Regions from separate parts of the Homo sapiens genome. Here region 1 is linked to region 2. Evidence: fine-mapped expression QTL. A gene starts in region 2. The other region holds a variant in brackets. All regions are shown on one strand. Distances are from middle to middle.

Evidence for each region.
Region 1: its variant is fine-mapped to the expression of UBR2 in whole blood (INTERVAL, PIP above 0.99).

The regions. Positions count from the first base shown.
Region 1 is chr6:42,510,322-42,526,420 of GRCh38, reverse strand. No RefSeq gene overlaps it. Among named protein-coding and RNA genes, the nearest start is that of UBR2, 46 kb to the left of the region's middle. The variant AAAAAAAAG/G (reference allele first, on the strand shown) is at 7,322.
Region 2 is chr6:42,556,930-42,573,028 of GRCh38, reverse strand. UBR2 (ubiquitin protein ligase E3 component n-recognin 2) reads right to left here and starts at 9,000. Exons shown (of 47, transcript NM_001363705.2): 1 at 8,632-9,000. The coding sequence starts at 8,709. RefSeq lists enhancers at 70-119, 210-269, 8,769-9,288, 9,359-9,438 and a silencer at 7,607-7,736.

The sequences.
Region 1 (16,099 bases), 47 kb after region 2:
CTCTCAAGTAGCTGGGCTACAGGCATATGCCGCCATGCCTGGCCAATCTTGGTATTTTTTGTAGAGGTGGGGTTTCACCATGTTGCCCTGGCTGGTCTCGAACTCCTGGGCTCAAGCAATCCATTCATCTCAGCCTCCCGAAGTGCTGGGATTATAGGGGTGAGCCACTGTGTCTGGCCAAGTTAATATTTTAATGAGCTTAAAATATTGGCTCACATAAAAATACCATACAAGTGTTTGTTGGATGAAAAAATAGGCCAGGCCCAGTGGCTCATGCCTGTAATCTCAGCACTTCAGGAGGCCGAGGTGGGTGGATCATTTGAGACCAGGAATCTGAGACCAGCCTGGCCAACAGGGCGAAATCCTGTCTCTACAAAAAAATACAAAAACTAGCCAGGCGTGGTGGCATGCACCTGTAGTCCCAGCTACTCAGGAGGCTGAGGCATGAGAATCGCTTGAACCAGGGAGGCAGAGGTTGCAGTGAGTTGAGATGGCACCACTGCACTGCAGCCTGGGTAACAGAGTGAGACTCTGTTCTCAAACAAACAAAACAAAACAATAAAACATGGTGCCATTGAGAATGATATTTTTAAGAATATTTAAGTATTTAAAATTTTTATAATGAATTATAAGTGAAAGAGGTTATAAAGCAGTTATACATTATAACATCATTTAAACATACTATATACCTAGAAGAAGGGCTGAATTTAGCAAAATGTTAATATTGTTGTTGGGAGGTAGAGTCATGGGGCATTTTTATTTCTGTGCTCTGTGTTCAGAATAAGGTTGTCACATATGGCCTCATAGGTTGCGCACTGCACAACTCCAGGAGGCCCCCTTTGTCCTTCTTCCTACTTCCAACTTGCATAACCTCCTTTATTGCCCACACCTTCTAGAACACAGACGTATTACTCTCATGTAATCAAACAAATAAATACAGTTTAAAAAATTGCAACCTTGCCTTTTCTTCCTAACATACTTCAAAGACAAATGAAGTTGACCTAGTTTGTCATTTTTATTAGAGCTGGAGAGAAATTACCTCTGGACTCTAAAACGGTTGTTATAAAGGTAAACTCAGCAACTCTTGGGACAATCAAGGAATGTACAGTCATGACTGCAGAACTGAAAGGTACTGCGTCACATGCGTAGGATAAGTAAACATATTTGGCCTGAGTAAGTTAATCACATTTTTAAAACCCTGAAATGTATTTTATCTACTGAAAAAATTCAGAACTGCTGAATCAGAAATGATGAATATGAGCATGAAATGCTCATATTAAATTCACAATGAAGAAGATTTAAAATAAAATGATTTAAATAAAGAGATTTAAAGTAAAATGATTCTCCCGTCATGCACAGGACAAAAGGAGCCTGGTTCTTAATGGCATTCTACACTAACCCTGGACTTCTCAGCTCCATACTTCTTATATGTAAGATAGCAAATATCTTTACTACTTAGGCCACTGTAATTGGGCACTGTTCTTTGCAGCCAAAGCATTATATAAGAAGCTTTGAACCCCTCCCTTCCCTAGATGGAGTCAAACAATTCCTCTTCTATGTGCTCACGACCCATTGCACCTCTATTCTAGAATTCAGCATATAGTGTGATATGGTTTGGCTCTGTGTCCCCCAACCAGATCACATCTCGAATTGTAATCCCCACGTGTTGAGGGAGGAAGGTGATTGGATCATGGGGGTGGTTTCCCCCATGAAGTTCTTGTGATAGTGAGTTCTCATGAGATCCAATGGTATAATGAGGCAGTTTTTCCTGCTCTTGCTTGCTCTCTGTCCTGCTACCTTGTGAAGAAAGTGCCTTGCTTCCCCTTCCGCCGTGATTGTAGGTTTCCTGAGGCTTCCCTAGCCATGCAGAACTGTGAGTCAATTAAACCTCTTTCCTTTATAAGTTACCCAGTCTCAGGTAGTATCTTTACAGCAGCGTGAATACACTGCTGTATATTATATAGAATAATATATAGAATTATTCTATATAGGATATGGAATAATATATAGAATTATTCTATATAGGATATGGAATAATATATAGAATTATTCTATATAGGATATGGAATAATATATAGAATTATTCTATATAGGATATGGAATAATATATAGAATTATTCTATATAGGATATGGAATAATATATAGAATTATTCTATATAGGATATGGAATAATATATAGAATTATTCTATATAGAATTATTCTATATAGAATATGGAATAATATATAGAATTATTCTATATAGAATATGGAATAATATATAGAATTATTCTATATAGAATATGGAATAATATATAGAATTATTCTATATAGAATATGGAATAATATATAGAATTATTCTATATAGAATATGGAATAATATATAGAATTATTCTATATAGAATATGGAATAATATATAGAATTATTCTATATAGAATATGGAATAATATATAGAATTATTCTATATAGAATATGGAATAATATATAGAATTATTCTATATAGAATATAGAGTAATATATAGAATTATTCTATATAGAATATAGAGTAATATGTAGAATTATTCTATATAGAATATAGAGTAATATGTAGAATAATTCTATATAGAATATAGAATAATATATAGAATAATTCTATATAAAATATAGAATAATTCTATATAGAATATAGAATAATTTAATTTTTTATAAATAATTATAAATATTATACTGCATTTAAAAAAATTATAAATAATAATAAATTAAATTAAATAATTTAAATATTATTTAAATTCTATATATAGAATATTCTATAGAATAATACACTATTATACATGGTGTAATAGTCATTTACATGACTTGTTTGTGAGATCATCCAAAAAATTCATGGATTGTCTTTTATTTCTGTAACCTCAGTACCCTTCCTGGTGTCTGACACAGAAACACTTGTTCAATTGGTGTCAAGAATTTATATATTCACTGTTGTGGGAGATATGGAGGGTGCTCTTTTTTGAGAGTGTAAAGGAGTGGGGATGCAGCTCATATGCATGCACAGATGAATAGTTCCATAGCCTGAGCAAGGCTGTCGGTAAAGGCTGAGTCAGAAACACCCTAGGAAGCCTGGCGTGGTGGTGCGTGCCTCTAGTCCCAGCTACTCAGCAGGCTGAAGTGGGATGATTCCTTGAGTCCGGGAGTTTGAGAACACTGGGCAACATAGTGAGATCACAATTCTTTAAAAAATAAAAAGGAAAAGGAATACCCTAAGGATCTCTCCCCATAAGCCCTGAGCCTCTGGCAGGGAACTCCAGAAAACTGGTAGATGGAACCGAAAGCAACTCTAGATGCAGGGGAGGGGCAGTATAGAGGAGTATGTCTCCTCCCCCATTTGGATTCTTAGGATTCTTTTTAGAAATTATTGTTATTTTATATTTTTACATTTTTGGAGATTAAAATGTTGGCTTCGTTACAAAGCTAGATTGAAGTATGTGGTATGGTTGTCGAGTGGGCTTGCCGTTACTCTTCTGTTTTGAACTTACCCTCCAAAGTGCCATCTTCCACCCCTGCTGGGGCAGAGCCTGTCCTGCTTGGCTTAACACATGGCTGGAGGTCAGACTAGGATGCACCTGCACTCCATAGATCAGGCTGCCAATCGCAATGGCTGGCTGGAGTGAAAGTGAATTCGGAAAGCCAGGCCTGCCTAGGACACAGGAGTTGGGGGATGAGAGGTGGAAAAAAAGGAGGAGTGGGAACAGGGAGGTGGGCACATGTACAAAGACATGAACTTACACCATATAATCTGCTTTTTTTTTTTTTTGAAATGGGGTCTCACTCTGCCATCCAGGCTGTAATGCAGTGGCACAATCTTGACTCACTGCAACCTTTGCCTCCCAGGTTCAAGTGATCCTCTGATCTCAGCCTCCCAGGTAGCTGGAACTATAGATGTGCACCACCATGCTCAGCTAATTTTTTTGTATTTTTGGTAGAGATGGGATTTCACCATGTTGCCCGGGCTGGTCTCAAACTCCTGAGCTCAAGTAATCTGCCTGCCTTGGCCTCCCAAAGTGCTGGTATTACAGGTGTGAGCCACCGCACTTGGCCTACCCTGAAGTCTTTATGATCCTTCTCACTTTTCTGTCCTGGTTTAGCTCACTGAGAGGTCACAGTTTTTAAATATGCACCCTCCCCCCACCCCCCACCAATTTTGGTTTGGCTTTTGCTTTCTTACAGTAAAAAGAATGCAGCTTCTGAACCAGCCAAGGAATGTGGGCTGTAAAGAATGGACTGTTTCATTTTGATATCATCGTATTTTGATACTTTCTACACAAAGTTCCAGTACAACAGTTGTAATTATCATTGGCAGAAATATGCAGAATTCTCAAGGTTGAAATCTGGGACCTGAGGTTGCAGTAAAAGTATACAGTCTAGAGTGCTTTTTCCAGAGTTCAGATGTTTCACTGGGCAAGTCTGATAAACCGAATTGATAAAGTGTTAATGACAGAGAATAGGTGTATATGTAAGATCACCCAAACCTCATTTGCTTTTTTTTCTTTTTTTTTAGAGATGGCGTCTCACTATGTTGCCTAGGCTAGAGAGTAGTGGTTACTGACAGGTGCAATCATAGAGCACTACAGCTTTGAACTCCTGGACTCAAGTGATCCTCCCACCTCAACCTCCTGAGTAGCTGGGACTACAGGCATGTGCCATTGTACCCCACTTCATTTGGTTTTTTGCAGCTGCTTTCAATGCCTGGCCTCAAAGGAGGTTGTCCTGGAGGTATCTTGAGCCATATGGCAGGTTTTTTCAGAGAGGGGGGCTTTATTTAGCACCCCTTAATCATGGCATAAGGGATGCTCCTATTTTATTTCCCCAACCCTCCCCACAAGGCTGGTGATTGGAAGGAACATAGTGTAAAAGTGGGGGAACTTTCCAGATCTTATTAAGAAGAAGCAAAACACAGGTGGCCCCAGAGCAGGGACCCTTCCAGCCCCACCCCATCACAATGCACTTCACCAGCCCAGGCAGAATCAGGAAGTGAGTGAGTGAGAACACAGAGCTCCATCAATATCACCATGTCTGGGTTCCGTATAGTAAATTGACCTGATTGGGCTCCATTCAACCAGTCTGAGTTCAGCCTCTTCCTTCAGTCTCCTCAGCCTAATACAGCCCTGGGCCCAAAGAGCACACGGTCCACCAGCCCAAGGTCCCACTCTACAGCCACCATCCCTACATTGCTAATCCTGCCCAGCCATCAAGCAAATGAATCTCCTGAGGGTTCTCAGGGGACTGAGTGAGAGTGTAGATGACTCAGTGTGACCTCTCCCTACTGTTAGAGAAAGCTCAAAGCAAATAGTTTGTGACGGTGAGTTAGTAATGTCAGCCGCAATATGGAATATTTTGTGGCAAGTACAGCAGTGAGTAGCATTTGCAAACCTTTAAGACTAATTTTTGTGCCATGAAAGAAAGGGGAAGTTGGAGTCAATAGACTGAGCCTCTGATGATTTATATCTGAGTTTCGACTTGTGTATTTCATTCACTTCTGCCACATTTCTTCTAGTCTATCTGCCTTTGGGGATCTCGTTGAAAGAAGAGTGAGTCATTGTTTGGCCATATCTTCTTTTTAATGTGTTTAATCCCATAATGTAAAAGAGAATTAGGCAAGAGGTTTAAGAGATTAAATAAGATTCATCACTGAATTATTAAAAATTAAGCTCTGGCTTAAAACAAGCTAATAGGAGATGTGTACAACAGTCTTCAGCATTGCAAAGGACACAAAAACTCCTTATTCAGGCATAATAGATGCTATCCATTAGTTTCTTGGTAAAATCAATAACTAACAATAATAATGTGCTCAAAAGTTATCCTTAATGTTTTTCTCAGACAGTGTGTCACTGTCACTTAGGCTGGAATGCAGTGGCATGATCGTGGCTCACTGCAGCCTCAATCTTCCAGGCTTGAGAGATCCTCCCACCTCAGTCTCCTGAGTAGCTGGGACTACAGGCATGAACCAATGTGCCTGGCTATTTTTTGTTGTTGTTGTTTTCTTTTGTTGTTGTTGATAGTGTTGTTTCTGGTAGCTAGTCTCCAAAGGTGGCCCCCAAGGATCCATGCCTCCTATGACTCCTGCCATTCTGTAGTCCCCTCCCACATGGAATCTAGACTGGCCCAGATTCACTTTAACCAATAAAACATGGTAGAAGTGATACTTACATCAGTTCCAGGCCAAAGCCTTAGAAAAGTCTCAAAGTCTCCCTTTTTGCACTTTTGGGAGCTCTGTGCTGCCAGGTATGAAGTCCACCTCCTCTGCTGGGAAGGCCATGTGGAAAGACAGAGGCCTTGAGACTATGTAGAAATAGAAAAAATCCTAGCGGCTCAAGTACCCCATCTGAGTCCAGCCTTCCAGCCATCACTGCCAAGGTACCAGACACGTAAGAGAGATAGCTTGGATTTTCCTGTACAGTAGTACTCCCAGGTGACTGCAGCCCCAGCCAACATCACATAGAGCAGAAGAACCATCCAGCAGAGCCCAGTCAACCTACAGAATAGCAAGAGAATAAAATGGTTGTTGTTTTAAACCCCTACATTATGGGATAGTTTGTTATACAGTAGTAGAAAACCAAACACTTTTTATATAACAAATCTGATTATTTTTGTGAGTAAACAAAGTTAATAAAGTACATATTATATAAAGTAATTAAAAACATTCAATTATTTTGCAGAACACTCAATCAGAAAGAAGCCCCATTGGCTTGGCACAGTGTCTTATGCGTGCAATTCCAGCACTTTGGGAGGCTTGATGCAGGAGGATTGCTTGAGCCTAGGAGTTCAAGACCAGTTTAAGCAATATAGCAAGACCCAGTCTCTACAAAAAATTTAAAAATTAGCTAGGAGGGCTGGTGCAGTGGCTCACACTTGTAATCCCAGCACTTTGGGAGGCCAAGGTGGGTAGATCACGAGGTCAAGAGATCAAGACCATCCTGGCCAACATGGTGAAACACCGTCTCTACTAAAAAAAAAAAAAAAATTAGTTGGGCATGGTGGCGTGTGCCTATGGTCTTAGCTACTCGGAGGCTGAGGCAGGAGAACCACTCGAACCTAGGAGGCGGAGGGAGGTGGAGGTTGCAGTGAGGCGAGATTGCACCACTGCACTCCAGCCTGGCAACACAGTGAGACTCCTTCTCAAAAAAAAAAAAAAACAAAGTCAGCCATGTGTGGTGGTGCATGCCTGCAATCCCAGTTATTTGGGAGGCTGAGGTGGGAAGATCACTTGAATCCTGCAGGTCAAGGCTGCAGTGAGCCGTGATTACACCACTGTATTTCAGCCTGGGTGACAGAGCAAAATCCTGTCTCAAAAAAAAAAAAAAAAAAA[AAAAAAAAG/G]GAAACAGAAAAAGAATAAGAAGCTCCCATTAAAGCAATATTTAGACCACAATGAAATAGGATAGCTATAATTTAAAAAGACATAATAACAAATATTGACAAGGATGTGGGGAAATTGGAACTCTGCACTGCTGATGAGAATGTCAAATGGTGCAGCTGCTTTGGAAAACAATCTGGCATTTCCTCAAAGTGTGAAACATAGGTTTATCATATGACCCAGCAATTTCACTACTAGCTATACAACCCAAAGAAATGAAAACCTATGTCTCCACAAGAACTTATACAGGAATTCCTTGTAGCAACACTATTCATAATAGCTGAAAAGTAGGAACAACTCAAATGTCTATCAATTGATTAATGGATAAATAACATGCGGTATTATCTATACAACAGGCTATTATTTGATAAAAAGGAATGAAGTACTGATACCTGCTGCAACATGGATGAACCTTGAAAATGTTCAGTGAAAGAAGCCAATCACAAAGACCACATAGTATATTATTCTATTTATATGAAATATGCAGAATAGGCAAATCTATAGAGACGCAAAGTAGATTAGTGTTTGCCTAGGGTTGTGGGCAATGAAGAATGATGGCTAATGGGACAAATGGGTACAAAATTTCTTTCAGGGGTAATGAAAATATTCTAAAATTGATTGTGTTGATGATTTAAAACTCTGTGAATATACTAAAAACATCATATCGTACATTTTAAATGGATGAACTGTATGGCGTATGAATTACATTTCAATAAAACTGTTATAAAAAAAGAAGAAATCTTCCATGAGACTGATGTCTATTTCATTTCATCTCCTTGGGCATGAGAGTCCTGCCTATCATCAGATAGGGCTCAATCAACCCAGATATCTAACTATAGCAGTATGTACTTGAATGCACTTTTTGACAGGGGAGTTTATAGAAACAACATATGAGCTGAAAACTGAATGTCCGTTTATTATACAATCAGTATAGTATAATTTTACAGTTCATATCTCGTCTTCTCAATAAGGTGATGATCAATACAGAGATTTGGGCTGAATTCTAACATTCTCTGATTGTGAGATTTTGTTAAGTCACTTCTTGGACCTGCTGTATTGAGTTCCACATCGCTTCTTGCTGTTCTGTCAGGTCCTTGTATCAAGATTTTTGTTTTTATTGTCTGATTATGAAGTGATATTAGCTTGTCAGCATGAAGAATGGGAGGAAGGAAGTGTTGCCCCCTCCTCAACTTCCCAGAAAATAAAATAACTATACTTGCAAGAACCATTAAAAGTATCTGAATTCACTGCTTATATAGCAAGAAAACATCAGTTACAGTTAGAGTCGCCTGCAACTGGATGACAGCAAAATTTTCATTGTCTAATGGTTACTGTATGGTTGACTATTTTAGTTGTTCTCATGTTTTTGAAATAAATATGTATGCTCTATTTGCTATTGGGTACAGTTGTATACATCTCCATTAATTCAAACTGTTTAACTGCCCATTTAATTCTTCTGTAGACTTACTAATGCTTTAGCTACTTATTTAGAATTCACTTATTATTTAGAATGTATAAGTATTTACTTATTGATAATCTAAAAAGTGTCAGGCCCCATGCTGGGCCCTGGAGATTCAATCCTAAACAGGACACAGTTCCTGCCCTAAAGTAGCTCATGGTAGATGACAAATGTCTCAGTACATGAGGTTGTAGACCTTCAATGCCAATTTGTGCTTACTTTGGATTTTTATTTAAAATGTTTAAAAGTATATATTTTATTTAAAATCTCACTTTTTTACTATCAAATATTGATAAAGCAATACTAAAATCTTCCACTATGATTGTGAAGTTATCAAATTCTCCTTTGGATCTGTTAATTTCTGCTTAATACACTTTGACTTTAAGGCTTTACTCTTAGGTACATGGTGGTTCTGATTGTTAAATCTTTCTGATGAGTTCTATTAACTCCTGTAGTGTCTAATCTGCTGTTCAGGCCACACAGTGACATTTTATCTCAGACATTATGGTTTTCATCTCTAGGGGTTCAATTTGGGCCTTTTTTATGTCTTCCATGTCTCTACTTAACATGCTCAGTCTTTCCTCTAGCTTCTCAATCATGTGAAATATACTTACAATAACTTTCAATGTTCTTATTTACTAATTCTGTCATCTGTGCTGTTTCTCAATATGGTTCTATTAATTGATTTTTCTCACTGTTATGGATTATAATTTCCTACTTCTTTGCATACCTAGTAAGTTTTGATTGGATGTCAGACATTGTGTATTTTACCTTGTTAGATGCTGGATGTTTTCATATTCTTATAAATGTCTCAAGCTTTGCTCTGGGACAGAGTTAAATTACTAAAACACAGTTTGATCCTTTCAAGTCTTCTTCTTGTTTTTAATTTCAATAGGTTTTGGGGGGGAACCAGGGATATTTGGTTACATAGATAAGCTCTTTAGTGGTGATTTCTGAGATTTTGGTGCATCCATCACCTGAGCAGTGTACACTGTACCCAATGTGTAGTCTTTTATCCCTCACGCCCTCCCTTCCTTCCCCCGGTCCCCAAAGTCCATTGTATTGTTCTTATGCTTTTGCATCCTCATAGTTTAGCTCCCATTTACAAATGAGAACATACAATGTCCATTCCTGAGTTACTTCACTTAGAATAATGGTCTGCAACTCCATCCAAGTTGCTGCAAATGCCATTATTTTGTTCCTTTTTATGGCTGAGTAGTAGTCCATGGTGCGTGTATACATACATACATTATATATATATATTTAACATTTTCTTTATTTGCTTGTTGATAGGTGGGCATTTGGGCTGGTTCCATATTTTTGCAATTGCAAATTGTGCTGCTATAAACGTTTGTACAAGTGTCTTTTTCATATAATGATGTATTTTCCTCCGGGTAGATACCCAGTAGTGAGATTTCTGGATCAAAAGGTAGATCTACTTTTAGTCCTTTAAGGAAACTCCATACTGTTTTCCATAGTGGTTGAACTAGTTTACTTTCCCACCAGCAGTGTAAAAGCGTTCCCTTTTCACCACATCCATGCCAACATCTATTATTTTTTAATTTTTTAAATTATAGCCATTCTTGTAGGAGTAAGGTGGTATCACACTGTGGCTTTGATTTGCATTTCCCTGATAATTAGTGATGTTCAGTATTTTTTCATATGTTTTTTGGCCATTTGTACATCTTCTTTTGAGAACTGTCAAAAGAAAGACTCATTATGGCAGATGTAATCCTGCACTACCCAAATCTCTCTTCCAGACCAAAGGACCTAATCCTCCAGATGCTGGGTACTGGGAGCTGGGGCTGCTTCTAGAAGACAATGCTCAAATGTCAGAAATGTCAGTCCTCTACAGGAATTGCTCTCGGCTGAATAGTGCTGCTTTACTCACAGGGTCACACTACTTCCTGGAGACAGGCTGCATCCAGTGATTGGTTGATGCAGGACTACAAAGAACCAGTCTTCTCATCCCCATGGTGGACAATTCTAAAGTTCCATGTTCGTCTCAGAGTTCCCCGTGGTAGGATGATCAACTCATCCTAGTTTGCCAGAGACTATCCTGGCTTTAGCATTGAAATTTCCACATCCTAGGAAACTTCCAAGTCCTGGGCAAACCAGGTCATTCTTTTCATGAGGTGGCTGAAGTCTTAGTTGAGACTCCATCATAACTCACCCTCTCCCTCTGCCCAGTCCTGCTTCCACCCCCGACACTGGTGCTGATCCCAAGAGCACTCCCTGATAAGCCTCCTGTGTGCTAATCTGTGTCCCAGTCTACTTCCCAGGGAAACCAACCCACCAGCCGACAACACTCACATCTTTTTAAATTTTATTATAGAAAATTCTTAGATATTCTCCTCTTTAAAGATTGCTTTTTTCATATTCCCTCTTCTTTTCTGCAGGGATGCTCACTAAATGCATGTTGAATCTCTTTTTCCTCCATTTCTCTTAATCACTCTTTTTAAATTTTCCGTTGTCTTCTAACTTTGAATTTACTAATTTTGTCTTCATCTGGGCCTAATTTTCTGTTTAACCCATCTATTGGCTTTTACACCTTAATAACTTCCTTCATCTGGCTTTGAAGACACCATTGTCACCTGGTTTTCTTCCTGTATTTCTGGGTGTTCTGTTTCAGTCTCATTTGCTGGTTCCTCTTCATCTTCCTTACTTCCTAATGATGAAATCCCCAGGGCTCAGTCCTTGGACCTCTTCTCTTTTTTACAATCTCAACCACTTTCCAGATGAAGTCATGAGTCTTATGACTTCAAATACCACAGACATGCTGATAATTTTCAAATTTATGTCTTTAGTTCAGATTTCCCCCCTAAACTCCAGACCCCTATACCTAGCTGGCTAGGAGATATCTCCACTTGGAAGTATGGAGCTCCTGATCTTCATTCCCAAACCCTGCCATTTTTCCTATCTCAGTTAATGAGATTACAGGTGGTACTCAGATATTACAGATGCTCAGTTTAAAAACCTTTAACTCCTCTTTGTCTAACACTGCAAATACTGGAAATCTTATGGGTTTTACCTAAAAATAGATCTGGTCCAAGTCACCATCATTTCTTGCCTGGATTATTGCAGTAGTCTCCTGGCTGGTCTACCTACACTTTATTCTCAATATGGCTGCCAGAGTGATGCTGTGAAATTTAGTCAGATCCTTATGTCCCTCTGCTCAGAACCCACCAGTGGCTCCCTTGTCATTGGAGTAAAACCAAAGTCTTCAGTGTGGCCTGCAAGCCCCTGCATGATTTGGCCCCCTGTTATGTCATGAACTCATCTCCCATTACTTTCTCTCTCGCTCTCTCACACACACACACACACACACACACACACACACTCTACTTCTATCCACACAGCAAGCAAGGCTCCTTGCTGTGACTTAAAAACACCAGGCAGGTTCCCCACTCAGGCCCTTTGTTCTGGCTGCTTCCTCTGCCTGAAAAGTTCTTCCCCATATACCAATTTGGCTTGCTCTCTCACTTTTTCAGGAGTGGAATAAAAATCACTTTCTCAGTGAGGCTTTCTCAGACGCCCTATCTAAAATTTCAACCGCCCCGTCTCCTCTGTTTTCTTTTTTCTTTTTTTTTTTTTGAGACAGGGTCTCACTCTGTCACCCGGGCTGGAGTGCTGGAGTGCAGTGGCACCTGCAGCCTCGACCTCCCAGGCTCAAGTGATCCTCCCACCTCAGCCTCCCCAGTAGCTGAGACTACAGGTGCGCATCGCCACACATGGCCTTAACCCCCTTTTTGATGTTTCATATCCCCCTTCCCTACTTTATTTTTTCTGTGTAGCACTTAGCCCTACCTAACATGCTACGCATTATATTTATTGTGTCTTCTTCATTAAAATGTAAACTCTGCCAGGCATGGTGGCTCATGCCTGTAATCCCAGCACTTTGGGAGGCCGAGGCAGGCAGATTACCTGAGGTCAGGAGTTTGAGGCTAGCCTGGCCAAAATGGCAAAACCCCGTCTCTACTAAAAATACAAAAATTAGCCGGGTGTGGTGGCACACGTCTGTAATCCCAGCTACTCAGGAAGCTGAGGCAGGAGAATCGCTTGAACCTGGGAGGCGGAGGTTGCAGTGAGCCGAGATTGTGCCATTGCACTCCAGCCTGGGTGACAGAGCGAGACACCATCCCCAAAAAAAAAGAAGTAAACTCTACTAGGACAAGGATTTTTGTCTGGTTTGTTCACTGCAATATCCTCAGAGCCTCTGTGTGTCTGGCACATTATATGAGCTCAATAAATATTTGACGAATGAATGAATGAGTGACTCTATTTTTCATTTCTGGAAGTTTGATTTGGTTCTTCCTTCAAATTGGCCTACTTTTATTTAATAGTGTCCTGTTGCTTTTTAATTTATAGTGATTAGTTGCATATGCTCTGGAACTAAACTGCGTGGGTTCAAATCTCAGCTCTGCCACTCTAATAGCTTGTGGTAACCATGAGCAAATTTCCTAATATCTCATCTGTAAAAGAGAGAAAGCAATAGTACCTACTTCACAGGAACTTTGTGAGGATTGAATGAGTTAATATTTTGTGAAGCCCTTAGAACAGCATTATATGTTTGCTATCATTATCATTATCACCATCATTTCTTTAATCATTTAAAGTCAACTTATTATTTATAGCATCCTCTAGATTCTCTATTGACTTTTGGTTAAGTGCCAATTTTTCTGTTTGTTGCATATGCTAACTCTCTACTGATAAAAATCTAATCACCACGGAGCATCAGGAGCCAGTCTGTAGTCTGACCAAATTAGTTATTAACTCAGTCCAGCAAGGGAGGCCACTCCGGGGGAAATGTGGAGTGTCGCTCCAAAGAGGGAAGACAGGAAGCTGCTGAAGGATTCTGAAGATTCTAAGGGAAGTAGGCATCAGTTCTGGATTGGTTGCTCCTACTCTGGTTGGGGGTGGGGTCAGTTAAGAGAAGTGGGGATTAAGTAGGTATTGGGTGCTGCCATGAGGCAGCAGTAGCTCAGCAATGGGCTAACCAGCAATAGGTGGGTATGGCAAAGCTGTCTGGGAGTTTGGTAGGAAAGCAGTCAACGTTCAAAGAGGGGGTCTTTATGGCATTTTACAGCTGCCGACTGACTTTGGGGGAAGCAATGTTCCTGTGAACTTTGCAGCTGGCTTTCTTTATGTCTGTCTTCTTTCTGGCTTGAATTGACAGTTGCTTTTTCTTTTCTTTCTTTTTCCAGTCCAACCTATTTTTCACTCTTTAAATCTTAGACAGGATTTGACTCTCACCAGCATAGTAGGGTGTTTGTAATTTTTTATTGTGAACTTGTCTTCAGCAGGTTGTTTCTCCCAATGGGAATCCTTGAAACTCTTGAGTAGTAACATTTTCTCCGCGGAGATGATTCACACATTTGCTTCTGCCAGAATGCTGAGTGTGTCAATGGCCCTCACTCCTATGCACATGGCATAGGCCCAGGGTTTAGGTTTCTCTGGATGACATTTTCCCCCTCATGTTCCAGACCTTAAACAAATGGTGAGCTTCCTGGCTGATTCCCAGGGCCCATGTCCAGTTTTTCTATCTCCATTTAAGGGGGGAAGAGTGCCACAAGGCCTTATTTATTTATTTATTTATTTATTTATTTATTTTAAGATACGGAGTCTCACTATGTTGCCCAGACTGGCCTCAAACCCCTGGGCTCAAGCGGTCCTCCTGCTTCAGCCTCCCAAGTGGCTAGGACTACAGGCATGTGCCACCATGCCAGCTCAAGGCCTTCAATTTTATGCAGGGCTCGCTGCCTTCCTCCTGTCCTCTCACAGGTATTAGCCCCCGGCCCTAACTCCAGATCCATATTCTTCTGGGCTACTATGACATCAGCTCAGCTAGCTGCTCTGCCTTTGATGGTTCTCTTCATTCCTAGCACCTGGAGATTTATTTGGATTATACTTTATTCCACATCTTCTCTGCATTTGTGCTAGAACTGGGCCTACTTCCACAGTAGTTTCGTTGACTCGGTCCTGATGCTAGGACCTCAATGGTGGTTAAAAGCTCAGGCTCTGGGGACAGACCTGGGTTTAAATCCTGGAGTCCATGGTTATTTTTTCTATGGCTTTGGTAAACTCTTTAAGTGTCCTTCTCTTGTCTGTAAAATGAGAACAATGACATGCCTATTAAATGAGGTAGTAAATACCAAACACATATATAAGAACTCAGTAGCCAGGAGCGGTGGCTCACGCCTATAAGCCCAGCACTTTAGGAGGCAGAGGCAGGTGGATCACCCGAGGTCAGGAGTTCAAGACCAGCATGGCCAAAATGGCGAAACCCTGTCTCTACTAAAAATACAAAAATTAGCTGGGTGTGGTGGCATGTGCCTGTAATCCCAGCTACTCAGGAGGCTGAGGCAGGAGAATTGCTTAAATCCAGCAGGCAGAGGTTGCAGGGAGCTGAGATCACACCACTGCTCTCCAGCCTGGGTGACAGAGCAAGACTCTGTCTCAAACAAAAACAAAAACAAAAACAAAACTCAATAGATACCATTATTATTATTACTATCAATATAGAAAATTAAAGAAATAAAAAAGAACAAGAAAGACAATAGTGTGTGCCACCTGGTGGCAAGACTTACCTCCCAAATCAGGAGGTCTTCCTCCATCCATCTTGGACACATTCTACCTATAAATACAGAATCCTTACCCATTCAGTTGCCCCCCAAAAGCCTTTGATTTCCTCAGGATGGTTCCGAAAAACACCTTCCTCTTGTTACTTTACCCGGAACATGGCTTAAGTCTTTGGCTGCTGGAGATGGAAGATCTGCCTTTGAATATGAGAGTTCTGACCAGCTACTTCTGTGTTCTGTGTTTTGTGATGTGTTGTGTCAGTGGGTTAGTGTTTTACTGCTTCCTCTTAAGTAGAAGAATAACTTTCTTTTTGGTGACTTCTGAAACAGAACGTCCCCCTCCCCAAGACACACAAGTGTGCATATACAGGCACACATCAACCAGGCAGTATGCCGAGGTCATAACACTTCATTCATAACACCATTAAATTATAATCTAACCTTTAAATTATAGTTAAGATGATCATCAGCAGTGCAATGCCATGTGAGCTACACATATTTATTCCCCACATGTCTGATTTTGGAAATCCGACATCTTCTCTAAATGAGTGCACCTTCCTCTCAATGCTCACTTTCTCAATAAAGATAAATGCATCATCTACACACATACTCAGTTTCTATCCCTAAATTTTCCAGCCAGGGAAATCTAATAACTGTTTTATATATCCAAGGATATCTATGTGTCTAGCTATCTCA
Region 2 (16,099 bases):
TTCTCCATTTCCAGCTCAACCTGGGTATCCACACCGAAAAATCTGAAAAGCTTCCCAGCACTTTGGGAGGCCAGGCCAAGCAGATCACCTGAGGTCAGGAGTTCAAGACCAGCCTGGCCAACATGGTGAAGTCTCTTCTCTACTAAAAATATAAAAATTAGCTGGATGTGGTGGCGCATGCCTGTAATCACAGTTACTCAAGAGGCTGAGGCAGGAGAAATCGCTTAAACCCAGGAGGCAGAGGTTGTAGTGAGCCAAGATCCAGCCTGGGCGACAGAGCAAGAGTCTGTCTCAAAGGACAAAAAAAAAAAAAGACTCACTTCTGCTAGAATGCAGTTAACTGAACCGTGAACAAAACCCACAGATGGAGGGAAAGAGGAAGGGGAAGTGAGTTGAAAAACTACCTATTGGGTACTATGCTCACTACCCAGGTGCAATATACTCATGTAACAAACCTGCACATGTATTCCTTAAATCTAAAGTAAAAGCTGAAATTAAAAAAAACCTCCAATGTTTACCTATGGATTACTACCTAATTCCAGTTACATTTTTATTTAAAAAAAAAAAAAAAGTATGTTCAAGTGATATGTAACATCATAAGAAGTCAACATAAGGTCTTCATTTTAGCTATTACTTGTATATTCTTCAGACCACTCCTTCTAAAAACAACATACAGAGAGATTTTAAATATGCATGAGGTGATGTATATTAACTTTCTAGTCAATTTCTGTTTTCAGAGAACTTTTACTAAAAATGTAAAAATTTTGTTCATAAGTTAAGGGACTGGATAGAAGCTTATAACCAAAAACGGTGAAAGAGTTTTCATGCTTAAAGTGAAACTAAACTATTTTCCAAATATTACTAACATTGTTGTGTTTACATTATGCAAGTAGGAAAGAGACTAAATTACTTTCAAAACAACAGCATTTCTTCCCTGGTGGCCAAGTGGTTAGGGAAAAAAAAATAAAAATAAAAATAAAACAGCAGCAGCAGCATCATTTCTTAGGAGACAATCCTACAGGCTTTAAGTATTCTCTCCCTTCAGAGTGACTCAATCAAAATTTTATATATACATACACATCCTTTAAGCTCAGTAATTATAAAGAGGACAAGTTTTAAAAAAAGAAAAAGAGTCCTCAACAAGCATACTAGAATCTTATTCTTTGAGCTAAAAGACCTCGTTTTGGCCTCATTCAAAGGTAAATGTCTCATTTTTCACCCATTGTCAGCAAACCAAAACAAGAATGAAGGTAGTCAAATGATCCTAAGCGCTTTTTTTTTTTTTTTTTTTTGAGTCTCGTGCTGTCGCCCAGGCTGGAGTGCAGTGGTACGATCTCGGCTCACTGCAACCTCTGCCTCCCAGGTTCAAGTGATTCTCCTGCCTCAGCCTCCTGAGTAGCTGGGGTTACAGGTGTGCACCACCACACGCGGCTAATTTTTGTATTTTTAGTAGAGACAAGGTTTCACTATGTTGACCAGGCTTGTCTCAAACTCCTGACATCAGGTGATCTGCCCACCTCGGCCTCCCAAAGGTGCTAGGATTCAATTTACTCTTTATGAAAGAAAAATTAAGCAATAAGACCAAAATAATTCACCTCCATGATCCTAGAAAGTTAAGTGCTTCGGACTTTTTTTTACAACATATTGAAAGATTTTATTTAAAAACCAGTTTTTTTCCTTATATTTTATGTTCCCATTCCTGTAAAACTTCACTGTTGCAAAATTTTAATACAAGAATGAAAGGTTACTTTAGAAGGGATGCTTTTTTTTTTTTTTTTTTTTTTTTGAGACGGAGTCTTGCTCTGTCACCCAGGCTGGAGTGCAGTGGCGCGATCTCGGCTCACTGAAAGCTCCGCCTCCCAGGTTCACGCCATTCTCCTGCCTCAGCCTCCCAAGTAGCTGGGACTACAGGCTAGCATGGATGCTTTCTAAAAAAAAATTATGCAGTCTAGTAACTGTAACGAGAGCAAATTTGTTCATAGATTTCTTCAACAAAAATTCAGACGCTAGTATCAGCTTCTGGTTAAGAAAAAAAAAAAAAATCGGCCAGGCTCTTTGGCTCATGCCTGTAATCCCAGCACTTGGGAGGCCAAGGCGGGTGGCTCATTTGAGTTCAGAGGTTCGAGTCTAGCTTGGGCAATATGGCAAAACCCTGTCTCTTCTAAAAATAAAAGAAGATTAGCTGGGCATGGTGGTGCATGCCTGTAGTCCCAGCTACTCAGGAGGCTGAGGTGGGAGGATCACCTGAGCCCCGGAGGTTGAGGCTTCAGTGAGGCATGATCACGCCACTGCACTTCAGCCTGGGTGACAGAGTGAGATCCTGTCTCAAAAAACAAACAAACAACAAAAAAAAAACTAGCCACTTTACATAAAAATATTATTAGTAAAACAAGCAAGTATTTCACTCTTTATTACATATTATTATAAATAACAAGACTTAAAAGTCTGGTCCAAGAAAGGCATGCATATGCTCCCCATTTTTCAAATCTTTACTACTCCTGGGCACAGTGGCTCACGCCTATAATCCCAGCACTTTGGGAGGCCAAGGTGGGCAGATCACTTGAGGCCAGGAGTTCGAGACCACCATGGCCAACATGGTGAAACCCCATCTCTACTAAAAATACAAAAATTAGCCAGGAGTGGTGGTGCACGCCTGTAATCCCAGCTACTTGGGAGGCTGAGGCAAAAGAATCGCTTGACCTCAGGAGGTGGAGGTTGCAGTGAGCCTAGATCACGCCACTGTACTCCAGCCTGGAGGACAGAGTGAGACTCCGTCTCAAAACCAAAAACTTTACTACCATTATATGAAAAAATCACAATCACCTAAAAGATTTGGGCTCTATTACAGGCACTTTAAGCTGATTAAACATACATACTTAATATAAAAAGCAAGAAAAATTTATGACTGTCTTTCAGAAGTAGCTCACACATTTCCCCAAAGAATAAAATCTATAGCTTTTCATATTAGTTCTAACATATGCTAACTGCAACTGTTTCTTCAACATGAAAAATTAAGATTTCCAGTTTGGTTGGCCTTTTGTCTTTATTTCAGACACTTGTAGCTGTCACACCCATGTGGCATAAGAGAGTAATAAGCATTCACTATCTTACTACAAGTCCCTCTTAAGGGAAGTAAAGAAACTGTCAACTCATTCCTCTAAAGTAAACATGTTATGACAATGTTTCCAGGAGCTTTCCCTCTATTAAATACTAAATTTAAGCCTTGGGATAGAAAGCAAGTACAATAAAATAAAAATGAAATGAAAAATGAAAGAATCCCTAGAGGTTAGTTAGCCTTTTATTACAGTCTCTATTATTCTATACCCAATTAAAATTGTATCCTTTAACTACTTTTGGTTTTGCTTTCAAACAAGGATAAGCAACATGTAAGTTAATCATAAAACAACTAGTGCTCATAACCATAAAAACAATAGTGTTTAAGTGGGAGTTTTAGGGAATATATTGAGAAAAATTTTAAACAAATTATATTAAGAGCTCTACAAATTAAGGAGAATATTTACAAATAAAATATAGAAATTTAATAGGTCAAAAGACTAATTGAAAATAGGCAAAGAAGACATAAAAATGGCCAATAAGCTCATAAAAAGATGTTCCAACATGACTCATGAGGGAAATGCAAATCAAAACCACAATGAGAAGGCATAACACCCAAAAGAATGGCTGTAATCAAAACACAGGCAAAAACAAGTGTTGGCAAGGATCTGGAGAAATTGGAACTCTCATGCACTACTGGTGGGAATGTAAAACAATGCAACTGCTTTGGAAAAATCTGGCAGTTCTTCAAAATAGTTAACATATGACCCACCAATTTCACTTCTAGGTATGTATATACCCAAGAGAAACAAAAGCATATGTCCCCACAAAAATTTGTAAAAAATGTTCACAGCAACATGATTCATAATACCCAAAAAGTAGAAACAACCCAAATATTCACCAACTGATGAACAGATAAATAATATATGGTTTATCTATACAAAGGAATGTCATTTGGCAATAAAAAAGAAAGAATTACTGACACAGGTTGAGCATCCCTAATTTGAAAACGTGAAATCCAAAATGATCCAAAATCTGAAACTTTGCATGCCCACACGATGCTCAAAGAAGTGCTCATTGGAACATTTGGATTTTGGATTAAGGATGCTCAACTGGTATAACTGCAAATATTTTAAAATCCAAAAAAATCCAAAATCCAAAACACTTCTGGTGGCAAGCGTAACAATACTCAACCTGTACATGGTACAACATGGATAAATATTTTATTTTTATTATTTTTTTTTTGAGACAGAGTCTCGCTCTGTTGCCCAGGCTGGAGTGCAGTGGCGCGATCTTGACTCACTGCAAGCTCCGCCTCCCGGGTTCATGCCATTCTCCTGCCTCAGCCTCCCAAGTAGCTGGGACCACAGGCGCCTGCCACCACGCCCGGCTAATTTTTTGTATTTTTTAGTAGAGACGGAGTTTCACCGTGTTAGCCAGGATGGTCTCGATCTCCTGACCTTGTGATCTACCTGCCTTGGCCTCCCAAAGTGCTGGAATTACAGGTGTGAGCCACCGCGCCTGGCCCAACATGGATAAATATTTAAAACATTATCTAAGAGAAAGAAGTCAGCCACAAATGACAATATGTTGAATTCCATTTATACGAAATATCCAGAATAGGCAAATCTACACAGACAAAAATTAGTAGTTGATTAGACCTCAGGAGTTTAGGTGTGAAAGGGAAGTGACTGCCAATAGGTACAGGATTTCTTTTTTGGGGTGATAAAAATGTCCCAAAATTGATCATAGTGATGATTGCATGAATCTGAATATACTAAAAACCACTGAATTTAACTGTACAGTATGTGAGTTATATCTCAATAAAACGGTTTAAAAAATGTACAGCAAAAAGATAACCAATACAGACCTAAAACTCTACATAAAACTTAACAAATTCATTATTTATTAAAACAAAATTTTTTTTGAAGACAGGGTCTCACTGTATCACCCAAGATGGAGTACAGTGGCATGATCATAGCTCACTGTAACTTCTAACACCTGGGCTCAAGCGATCCTCCCTGCTTAGCCTTCTGAGTAGCTAGGACTGCAAGTTCATGCCACCACACCCAGCTTATTTATTTTATTTTATTTTTTTTTAGTAGAGACAGGGTATAGCTAATGTTGCCCAGGCTGGTCTCAAACTCTTAGACTTAAGCAGTCCTCCCACCTCAGCCTCCCAAATAGCTGGGATTACTGGCATGAGCCAGTGCTCCCAACCTGTATTTCTTTTATATTCAGGGAAAAAGATGGGGTCCCGCTCTGTCACCCAGGCTGGAGTGCAGTGGCGCGATCTCGGCTCACTGCAACCCCAGCCTCCTGGGTTCAAGCAACTCTCCTGCCTCAGCCTCCCGAATAGCTGGGATTACAGGGGTGCACCACCATGCCCGGTTAATTTTTGTATTTTTAGTAGAGACAGGGTTTCACCATGTTGGCCAGGATGGTCTCTATCTCTTGACCTTGTGATCTGCCCTCCTTGGCCTCCCAAAGTGCTGGGATTACAGGCAAGAGCCACCACACCCGGCATGTTTACTTTTAAAACCGTAATCACTCACTGGAACATACTATAACCATATGTAGTATAGAAAGTAAACAGAGCCAAGAAGTGTTGGGAAAGTCATACTTATGGAGTCAATTCTAACAAGAAAAGAGAAGAATGAGAAGAGAGGGCCACTGTAATATCCTAAACTTACAAATATTAAAGAGTCAGCTTAGATACTTTTCTTTGTGAGGCATACTAGCTGGAATGGATGGGATCACAAAAAGTTCTTCCTCCTTATAACAGGAATAAGAAAAGCGGTGTGTAAATGAAATGTGGAAAGGTTGACACTAGTGCTCATTAGGTGATTTTTAAATGGAAGTGATCCTAACAAATTACCAATGACAGAGGTCTAAAGCCTACAATCACTGTTTTCTCTACTTGTTTCTCTTCCCTAAAATGTGCTTTCAACCTAAGAAAAAACTTTATTAATTTAAATGTGTGATAAAAAAGCTGAAGCCTAAGCTGAAAAAAACAGTTTTAAATGTTAGGTGTTTTAACTTAATACAGACAGTAAAGTCCTCACAAAGTAAGGCAAGATTAAGGTTATATAGTTGAAGGAATTTTATATTTTAATATTGGTTTTTGAGGTAGGAGGATCTCTTGAGCCTAGGAGGTCAAGGCTGCAGTGAGCTATGATAATGTCACTATACTCTAGTCTGGGCAACAGTGCAAGACCCCATCTCTTACCAAAAAAAGAAAAAAAAAAACTTATTGTTCAGAAAGGCATTTAAAAGTAAACAGGGTAGGCTGTGTGCGGTGGCTCACGCCTGTAATCCCAGGACTTTGGGAGGCCAAGGCGGACGGATAACCTGAGGTCAGGAGTTCGAGACCATCCTGGCCAATGTGGTGAAACCCTGTGTCTACTAAAAATACAAAAATTAGTCAGGCGTGGTGGCGTACGCCTGTAATCCCAGCTGTAATTCGGGAGGCTGAGGCAGGAGAATCACTTGAACCCCGGAGGCGGAGGTTGCAGTAAGCCAAGATTGCGCCATTGCACTCCAGCCTGGCGACAGAGCAAGACTGTCTCAAAAAAACAAACAAAAAAAGTAAACAGGGTAAAATGTAGCTCAGATTATGATCTTCACAAACTCAAATGAAGTCCAAATTAATAATTTTTTGTTGCATTTTCCTTGATTTTTCCTTACTGCATCTGCTTGAGAATTTCACTGAACAAGAACTAGGAGCACTGGCCTCCCGCACTACTTTTATAACCAGTTTCCTCAGGAGCCTCTACAAATTGGAGAACCTCTAATCACTTGATAGTTTGCACTTTTAGAATGGGATAACGGAATTTGTACCCTGTATCACTGGACCAAGACACAAAATTCAGTGAGAGAAAAAAAATCAAAACAGTACTTTGAGGTAAGCAACAGATATCAATTAGAAGAGGCATGGAGAGCAAACAGCTGTCATTATTATTTAACAGTTTACTTGTAACACTACTTTCATTTTCTTTTTTCAAATCTCCGATAAACGAAAGGCAGAAATTCCTTGAGTTGTACAACATTAAGTAGAAAGTAAATGAAAACAGACCTAGGCTAAACAAGTAAGTAGGTTTAAAAAAACACACCAAGGCAGGGCGCAGTGGCTCACGCCTGTAATCCCAGCACTTTGGGAGGCCCAAACAGGTGGATCACCTGAGGTCGGGAGTTTGAGACCACCCTGACCAACATGGAGAAACCCCAACTCTACTAAAAATACAAAATTAGCCGGGCGTGGTGGTGCATGCCTGTAATCCCAGCTACTCGAGGGGCTGAGGCAGCAGAATCGCTTGAACCCGGGAGACTGAGGTTGCGGTGAGCTGAGATCGCGCCACTGCACTCCAGCCTGGGCATCGAAAGCGAAACTCCGTCTCAAAAACAAAAACAAACAACAACAAAACACACCCAAACAAGCAAAGATTCAGCATTTAACAACGTATTTCTTTAAAGTCTTCACCTCTACTCCTGACATTTCTTTCTACCCGGACTTAATGTCCTCACCAATTCACGCAAAATAACTACTCACTGACCAACAGCTCCACAGTGCCCCCAATCCCAAATTTTGTTCGTAGCATTCAGATTGCTGACTTTTATTCACGGGTCACTCCCTTCCTAGCAGCCTTTTTAATTGGAGGTCTTAGAGGTGGGGCCCAAGCTGTCTTGGTCCATTCATAATCATTCTCGGCAATCTCTTCTAATGGGTGTTCCTACAACTCTGCTATTTACACTAGCATATTCATATTACAGTTTTAATGCAATAGTGCGTTTGAACGGTTTTACGTTTGGAATATAACTGCTCCTACTACACTGTGACCAGTTCTCACGTTTAGCTTATACAGTATTTGTTGAAAGCTGCTCTATCAACGTTATATAACATTTGTTCTCCATCCAATTACCCCTAACTCCTAGAAAAAATATTTTTAAAATTTCCCAGACTCCACGACTACTTTCTCATACTCAGTAAACTTTCCACACATGCATCAACGTTGTCAACTAATCAAACCGGTGCAAAAAAAAAAGATAGCACTGAAACGGATAACGAAGGGTAGTGTCGTTTGCCTTCTTGGTGCCTGGGGCAGTCCCAAAAACAAAAGAGGGGCTCGGTTAGGGTGGCATGTTTAGTCGGAGGAGCACACGGCTTCGCTTGTCTCAGGAAAAGCAATTAACTAGATAAACTAGGGCGATTATACCAAAAACACAAGAAGCGTCTCTTCTCCTCTTCCAAGAGCTGATATAAAGGGCAAAGGCCCATGTGTTGGGAGACTTAATGGGAGGCTGGGGGAAAGGAGGTATGATGGAAGAGCCGTGGGTTCTCCTGGGCAGAAAGGGAAAGTAAACGTAGTTAGTGCACAGCGCAGCTCTGGCAGCTGTTGAAAATGGAAAGAGAGGGGCAGGATCGGTGGCCTCCCCGGGCTATTACCCCACAAGGCGAGGGCCGGCACAGCTGTTTCCCCAAGTCTGGGTCGGGCTGCTCCAGGACGTCCAGGAGTCGGTTCCTCCCCACAGGCGCGGCCTGCGAGGGGCAGACGCACCCGCCCGGGTTCCGGCACTCACCCCCGCAATCTCCTCGGCCGAACATTCCAGCAAGCTCCGGTCGATGGCCTGCACCTCTGGCTCTAGCTCCGACGCCATCTTCTCTCCTCCTCCTCCCCAGCGCTACCGCCGCCCGGAGAGCTGCAGCCTCACCTCGGCCCCGGCGGCCTCGACTGCCACCCCTGCCCCAGGCAATCAGTCCCGGAGCCGTCCAAGTGGCTGCAGGTGGAGCAACAGAGGGAGAGAAGGGTGACGTGAACCGGAAAGGAAGGACAGCGGCCTCCTGCGCTCCCTCCCAAGCTTAGCGCCCAAGAGTCAAGTCACTGGCTCGTCCCTGACCCAGGGAAGGACACAGAAAACCCCAGGCCTGACACTCTCGCTGGCCACTACCGCGTCCTGCACCAGGAAAGGGGCAATAACACCCAGGAGGGGAAGCGGAGCTTTCTGGGTACTGTAGTTCTGGGTGCTGTAGGTACAGCACAGCCGGGAAAAAGGTGGCGCCCTAACACGGTGCCCCTCGAATGCATTGTGGGAGTTGTAGTCCATTCTCAAGGGGCGCTGGCTTAAATGGCAGATAAGCGGGCGGGGCTTTTCTGCCCAACGAGAATCATGGGAAGACAGTCGCGGAAAGCAGCGCCCCCTGGAAAAAAGCCAAAGAGAAAGATACTGTGGGAACTGTAGTTTTATTCTCCGAATCTCGTTTGTTCATTTTTGTATCCCCAGCTTCAAGAACACTGCCTGGCACATGGTAGACCCTCAAGGACTTGCCAGTCTGGCATAGGGTAGGCACTCAAATACTTGTCAAAGGAATGAATGAATTACATTCTATTCCTGTGGTTCTATGTCCTGTCATCCATCGAACCCATATCTTTTATACGAGTAATGGAGGTGAACATTACCCACTTTTTTGAAGGTTTAAAACATGTTTTAAAAAATTTTTCAAAAACTTTAGTGATGACCACTTATAAACTTTATCACAAATCTTGCTGCAAAGGAAAAAGAGTCTATTAGGCCAATTAAAAGATTTCCTCTTGATAGAGACATTTAATTTCTACAGATAATCAGACCAAGCTTGGTGGCTCATGCCTGTAATTCCAGCACTTTGGGAGGCCGAGGGGGGCAGACTACTTGAGCCCAGGAGTTTGAGACCAGTTTGGACAACATAGCGAGACCCTCTTGATAAAAATCAAAAAATTAGCCAGGTGTGGTGGCACGCCTGTAGTCCCAGCTACTCGGGAAGCTGAGGCAGGAGGATTGCTTGAGCCCAGGCAGTTGAGGCCATCGTGAGCTGTGATCAGCCCACTGCACTCCAGCCTGCGTGACACAGCTGAGACCCTGTATCAAAAAAGAAGGAAAAAAAAAAAAAAGAAATAGGTAAACATTGTTAGACTAGCTATCAAAGAAAACTATGTTTAGTTAAAGGTAATTAGACTCTTGACTGACAGCTGGGTGACTGGGCTTCTTAGAAGTCTTCAGTCTCTAGAGTTTGTCAGAAAATTGTTTATACCTTTTGTCAAGTGTGTTAATTTATTCCCAGAAGTAGGTTGTAAATTACATATAGGGGGGAAAAGTTCTGAGCCAGACCAGGTTTAGGACATGTTTATGTTTATGTTGTTTTGGGATTTTTTTTAAACCAATACTATGATATTAACCAGTTTTTTAAAAAAGGAAATAAGAAACTGCCTGTATCCCTGTAACCTCACAATACAAGTAAGCCTTCTTATCACTTTTTAAAAGTTATATATATATATACATATAAAACATCAGAAATTCAAACTCGAAAGGAATGTTTTAAAAAAGGAAAATTGAAAACTTCCTATTCCTCTTACCCCAAGTCCCTCTCCCCAAAGAAAATCATTTTTGACACTGTCTTATGAGTCTGTCCAGAAAAAAGTATGCACATATCTGTACAGATATTTATAATGAGATATCTTGAAATATTCTTCTATGTATTTTTCTTTTTTTGCCCAACTTCCTTACACTGATCCACTCAGGACAGAGTCAACTTGGAAGAAAACTGGGATTGTCCCAGCCTAGAAGCAAAAACAACATCTCTTGAGCTGTCCTAACATAGAATTTAAGTCGTTAATAGACTGTAAAGGCAATTTCTGTTCTTAACATTATTTGCTTCCTAACATTATTTGTTTCAGGCCGAGCATTGTGGCTCACACCTGTAATACCAAAACTTTGGGAGGCCAAGATTGGAGGATAACTTGAGGCCAGGAGTTTGAGACCAGCCTGGGCAACATAGCAAGACCCCATCTCTACAAAAAAATTTAAAAATTAGCCGAACATGGTGGCCCATGTCTGTAGTCCTAGCTACTTTGGGAGGCTGAGACAGGAAAGATCACTTGAGCCTAGGAGTTCAAGCCTGTAGTGAGCTATGACTGTATCACTGAACTCTAACCTGGGTGAAAGAATGAGAGCCTGACTCAAAAAAAAATTGTTTCCCTTGTGTGTCATAATTATGAATTTGGAGATCATCTTCACTTAGCATTAGTAGCATTAGCAGTGGGACTCTCCATGTATTAATACTTTCAAAATACTTTTTCATTTGCTTCTGCAAGGCCAGACAACCTAGAAAACATCGTATACTCAGGACCAGGCACTCTAGGAGTATCCTGTATCTAGGACCAATTGTACGTCAGTTTCTAGGCTTGAAGATTCCCTAATAGTATTAATTCAGTTGTGTGCCATTTCTCTGTCTATAATTTTTGTTTTTTTGAGACAGAGTCTCACTTTGTTGTCCAGGCTGGAGTGCAATGGTGCAATCTTGACTCACTGCAACCTCTGCCTCCCGGATTCAAGCGATTCTCCTACCTCAGCCTCCTAGGTAGCTGGGATTAGATGCGTTGGTGGTATAGTGGTGAGCATAGTTACCTTCTAAGTAGCTGGGATTATAGGCACGTACCATCATGCCTGACTAATTTTTGTATTTTTAGTAGAGACAGGGTTTCACCATGTTGGTCAGGCTGGTCTCAAACTCCTGACCTCAGGTGTTCCACCCACCTCAGCCTCCCAAAGTGCTGGGATTACAGGTGTGAACCACAGTGCCCGGCCTGTCTATGAATTTTTAAGGAGAGTTCTTTTTCCTACTCAGAGTCAAGGTAAAGAGCTTCTTTGTCATTTTTGTATGCCAGTTGGTGGGTTTTTTGTCTAGTCTACCCTTTCACTGATACGACATTCCTTTGAAAGCCCTGGCTTTATGTAGAGGATCTCAGTTGCAATTCCAATGTTTCTTTGACCCAGGGTCTTGTTTTCTGTTCCCATGGGGGCATTAAGAGCTAAGCCCCAACTTCCAGTTAAATGTGGCAGATTGAATACCTCATGACAGTAAAGGGAGAAAAAAAGAAAAGAAGAGAGGATGACAGCACCAAAATTTGGTGGAAAGCAAGTGGTTGAGAAGTAACTAAGAGAATGCTGAAACCTCCGCTAGCAGTAGAGACACTGAGTCAAGCTAATTAATATGCAGTACCCTGAAAGACTTAAAAATTTGAGGCACCATGTAACTCTGAAAGTGGGTGAAGACAATGCTAAAAGCAAGCTTATTGTTTGAAAGTCTGTATAGCAAGAAGTTAGATCTCACTTCCTACTCTGGAAGAAGACTAGAGCTTTATCCTCTAGAGTGACTACACTTGAGGGCCTTTTGACTGGGAGACACCAGACACAGCTGAGGACAGGGATACCGCACTGCATTCAAGAGAGATGAATCAAAGTCTACATAGTGAACAGGGATAACCTAGCTTATTTCCCCATTTGGCTCTGAGAACCTTAGTGGCCAGGCTTATACCTCCCAGGCAAGAGTTTGGGAGGGTCTTCTCCAGAGGGGTAGATTATCTCACCACCAAAAAAATCTGTAGAGGTCATGCCTGTAATCCCAGCACTTTGGGAGGCCGAGGCGGGTGGATCACCTGAGGTCAAGAGTTCAAGACCAGCCTGGCCAACATGATGAAACCCTGTCTCTACTAAAAATACAAAAAAAGCTGGGCATGGTGGTGGGCACCTGTAATCCCAGCTACTCGGGAGATTGAAGCATGAGAGTCGCTTGAATCCAGGAGGTGGAGGTTGCAGTGAGCCGAGATTGTGCCACTACACTCCAGCCTGGGTAACAAGAGTGAAACTCCATCTCAAAAAAAAAAAAAAAATTCTGTAGAGGATAAGACCCCAACAAAATGGTATAGTCAGTTCACCCCACCCATGCATAAAACTTCTAATCATATTTTTAGTAAGTCATTCTTAAATATGAAGACAGGCGGTTGTGTACAGATACTTGAGCAAAGCCTATGGAAGAGAGACTAAAACAAAAATGACGAAGGAAGAAACAGACACAAGTCAGAAAGTTGGAAAGAACTTTTACAAATGTTATTAAAAACACTGGAGGAGATAAGCAAAGATTTTATATCCAAGAAAGAAGTACAGGAGGCTAGGGAAAAGGAGTTTTTGTTTGTTTATTTGTTTGTTTTTGAGACAAAGTTTCACTCTGTCACCAAGGAATTTCACTCAATTTTTTTTCTTTCTTTTTTTTTTTTTTTTTTTAAATAGAGAGTCTCATTCTGTCATACAGGCTGGAGTGGGGTGGCATGATCTCAGCTCACTCCAACCTCCACTTCCCAGGTTCAAGTGATTCTTCTGTCTCAGCCTCCTGAGTAGCTGGGATTACAGCCACCTGCCACCACACCCAACTAATTAACTAATTTTTGTTTTTTTTTTTTCAGTAGAGACAGGGCTTCACCATGTTGGCCAAGCTGGTCTGGAACTCCTGACCTCAAGTCATCCGCCCTCATTGGCCTCCCAAAGTGCTGGGATCACAGGTGTGAGCCACGGCTCTTGGCCATAATTCAGTATTATTTAAATCACCTGAAGCATTGGAAAGAGACACTGAGTTCATCAATAAGGTTAAATACATTATGATGCAGGCCAGGCACGGTAGCTCATGCCTGTAATCTCAGCACTTTGGGAGGCTGAGGCGGGCAGATAGCCTGAGGTCAGGAGTTTAAGAGCAGTCTGTCCAACATGGTGAAAACCTGCTCTACTAAAAATACAAAAATTAGCTGGGCGTGGTGGCAGGCACCTGAATCCCAGCTACTTGGGAAGCTGAGGCAGCAGAATTGCTTGAACCTGGGAGGTGGAGGTTGCCGTGAGTCAAGATCACGCCATTACACTCCAGCCTGGGTGACAAGAGCGAAACTCTGTCTCAAAAAAAAAAAAAAGAAAGAAAGAAAAGAATCATTATTGGGTAAAACATCAATATGAGTTTCTGTTTTATGTATTCATTTAACAACTATTTATGGAGTACTCAATACATTTCAGACATTGTTCTAGGAACATGGATACATGTGTGAAAAAAGGGGATCCCTGCCTTCATGGAACTCACATTTTAGCTATTCAGGAAATATGGCACCACCATTCTCAACACAAATACCTAGAAATATTGGGTGAAAATATAATAAACATAATCTTATATGAACATTTTAAAGGATAAGGCATCCAGTGCCATTCTGATTCTGGAGTCTTTGCGTTTTCTCCTGGAAGTAAAGGATTCTTTCTTTGTTCCTGTTGCTCTAAAATTTCCCAATGACTTGCCATAACGTTATTTCTACTTAAAACCATTGTGCTGGCTATGGAAGGGCTCTTTCCGTCTGGACACTCATGTCCAGTTCTTGGAAATTTTTTTGAAATTATTCCTTGATAACTTCTTCCCATTTATTTTATTTGTTCTCTCTGGGACTCCTCTTATTCAGAGTTTTCACAATTTAAATTTCTAAGAGAACTTTTTTGTTCTTAAATGTTCCTTTTGGCCAGGTGCAGTGGCTCACACCTGTAATCCCAACACTTCAGGAGCCCAAGATGGGACAATCACTTGAGCCTAACAGTTCGAGACGAGCCTGGGCAACGAAGTGAGACCCTGTCTCTACAAAATATAAAAAAATTAGTCAGTTGTGGTGATTCACATGTGTGGTCCCAGCTGCATGGGAGGCTGAGGCAGGAGGATCACTTGAGTCCAGGAGGTCAAGGCTACAGTGAGCCAAGATCCCACTACACTCCAGCCTGGATGACAGAGTGAGACTCTGTCTCAAAAAAACAAACAAACAAACAAAAAAATCGAATGAAATCCCTTGTTCATATAGCTTGCCAAAATCCTTTTAAGTATAGCCAATGGATAAATTCCTACAAGGAATGTGCTAAGTCAAAAGGAATAATGTAAATGATAAAAGGGCAAAAGGTGCAGAGTGAGGCTCAGAGTCTACAGGACTATGAAAAAGGCCTATTTGGGTACCCCTTGTCACTCACAGGCATTCAGAGTCCCCTCTCTGTGTAAGGCTCTCTACTGTGGCCTCTCACTGGACCTAGTTATGTTCTCAAACTTCAAATCTTTACTCAACCTCCTATTTCTCCCCCTACAAAAGTAACCAATCTATATGCCATTTCCTCAGAGCCCAACCTAGTGCCATATTTATTCTTCCATCAATTAGCTAAGAAATTCATTGAACAAATATTTTTGCACTCCTGCTAAGTACCAATTACACTTTTGTTTCTGGGATATACATCAATAAACGTAACAGGCAAGGCTACTGCTTTCACAGAGCTTGCATTTTAGTGGGAGAGACAAGCAATAAAAAAATAAGCTGGGCTGGGTGTGGTGGCTCATGCCTGAATAATCCCAGCATTTTGGAAGGCCAAAGTAAGAGGATTGCTTGAACTCAGGAGTTCAAGACCAGCCTGGGCAACATAGTGAAACCCTGTCTCTACAAAAAATGCAAACATTAGCCAGGCATGGTGGCACACACTTGTAGCCCCAGCTACTCAGGAGGCTGAGGTGGGGGGATTGCTTGAGCCCAGGAGGCGGAGGTTGCAGTGAGTCAGGATCATGCCACTGCACTATAGCCTGGGCAACAAAGCAAGACCCTGTCTCAAAAATAAAAAAGTAAGCTAAAGAATATACTATATAATTTTTAGATATTGACAAGTGTTAAAAGGCAATAAATATTATACAGAAGGTGAAGGTGAAAACGGAGGTAAGGGCATTAGATAGGTTGGTCAGCGAGATGTGCATGAGAAGTGGGGAGTTGAGCTGAGTACTGAGTGAGAAGAACCCATCATGTGAAAATCTGAAATGAGAGCATTCCAGGCAAAAAGAAACAGCAATTGCAAAGGCCCTGAGGGTGAAATGAACTTGACTTGAATCAAGAACAGTAAGATAGCTGCAACTTTTAGCCAACAAGTTTCAGATAAACTAATAAATGCTATGCTCACTAGTAATAGGCATAGGTATATTATTCCTATTCCTTAGTAAAATTGTTTCAGATATGTGTTATTATTTTCAGTTAAGACTTCATGAAATAGACTGGGCGTGGTGGCTCAGGCCTGTAATCCCAGCACTTTGGGAGGCCAAGGCAGGTGCATCACTTGAGGTCAGGAGTTCAAGACCAGCCTGATCAACATGGTGAAACCCTGTCTCTACTAAAAATACAGAAATGGTGGCAGGTGT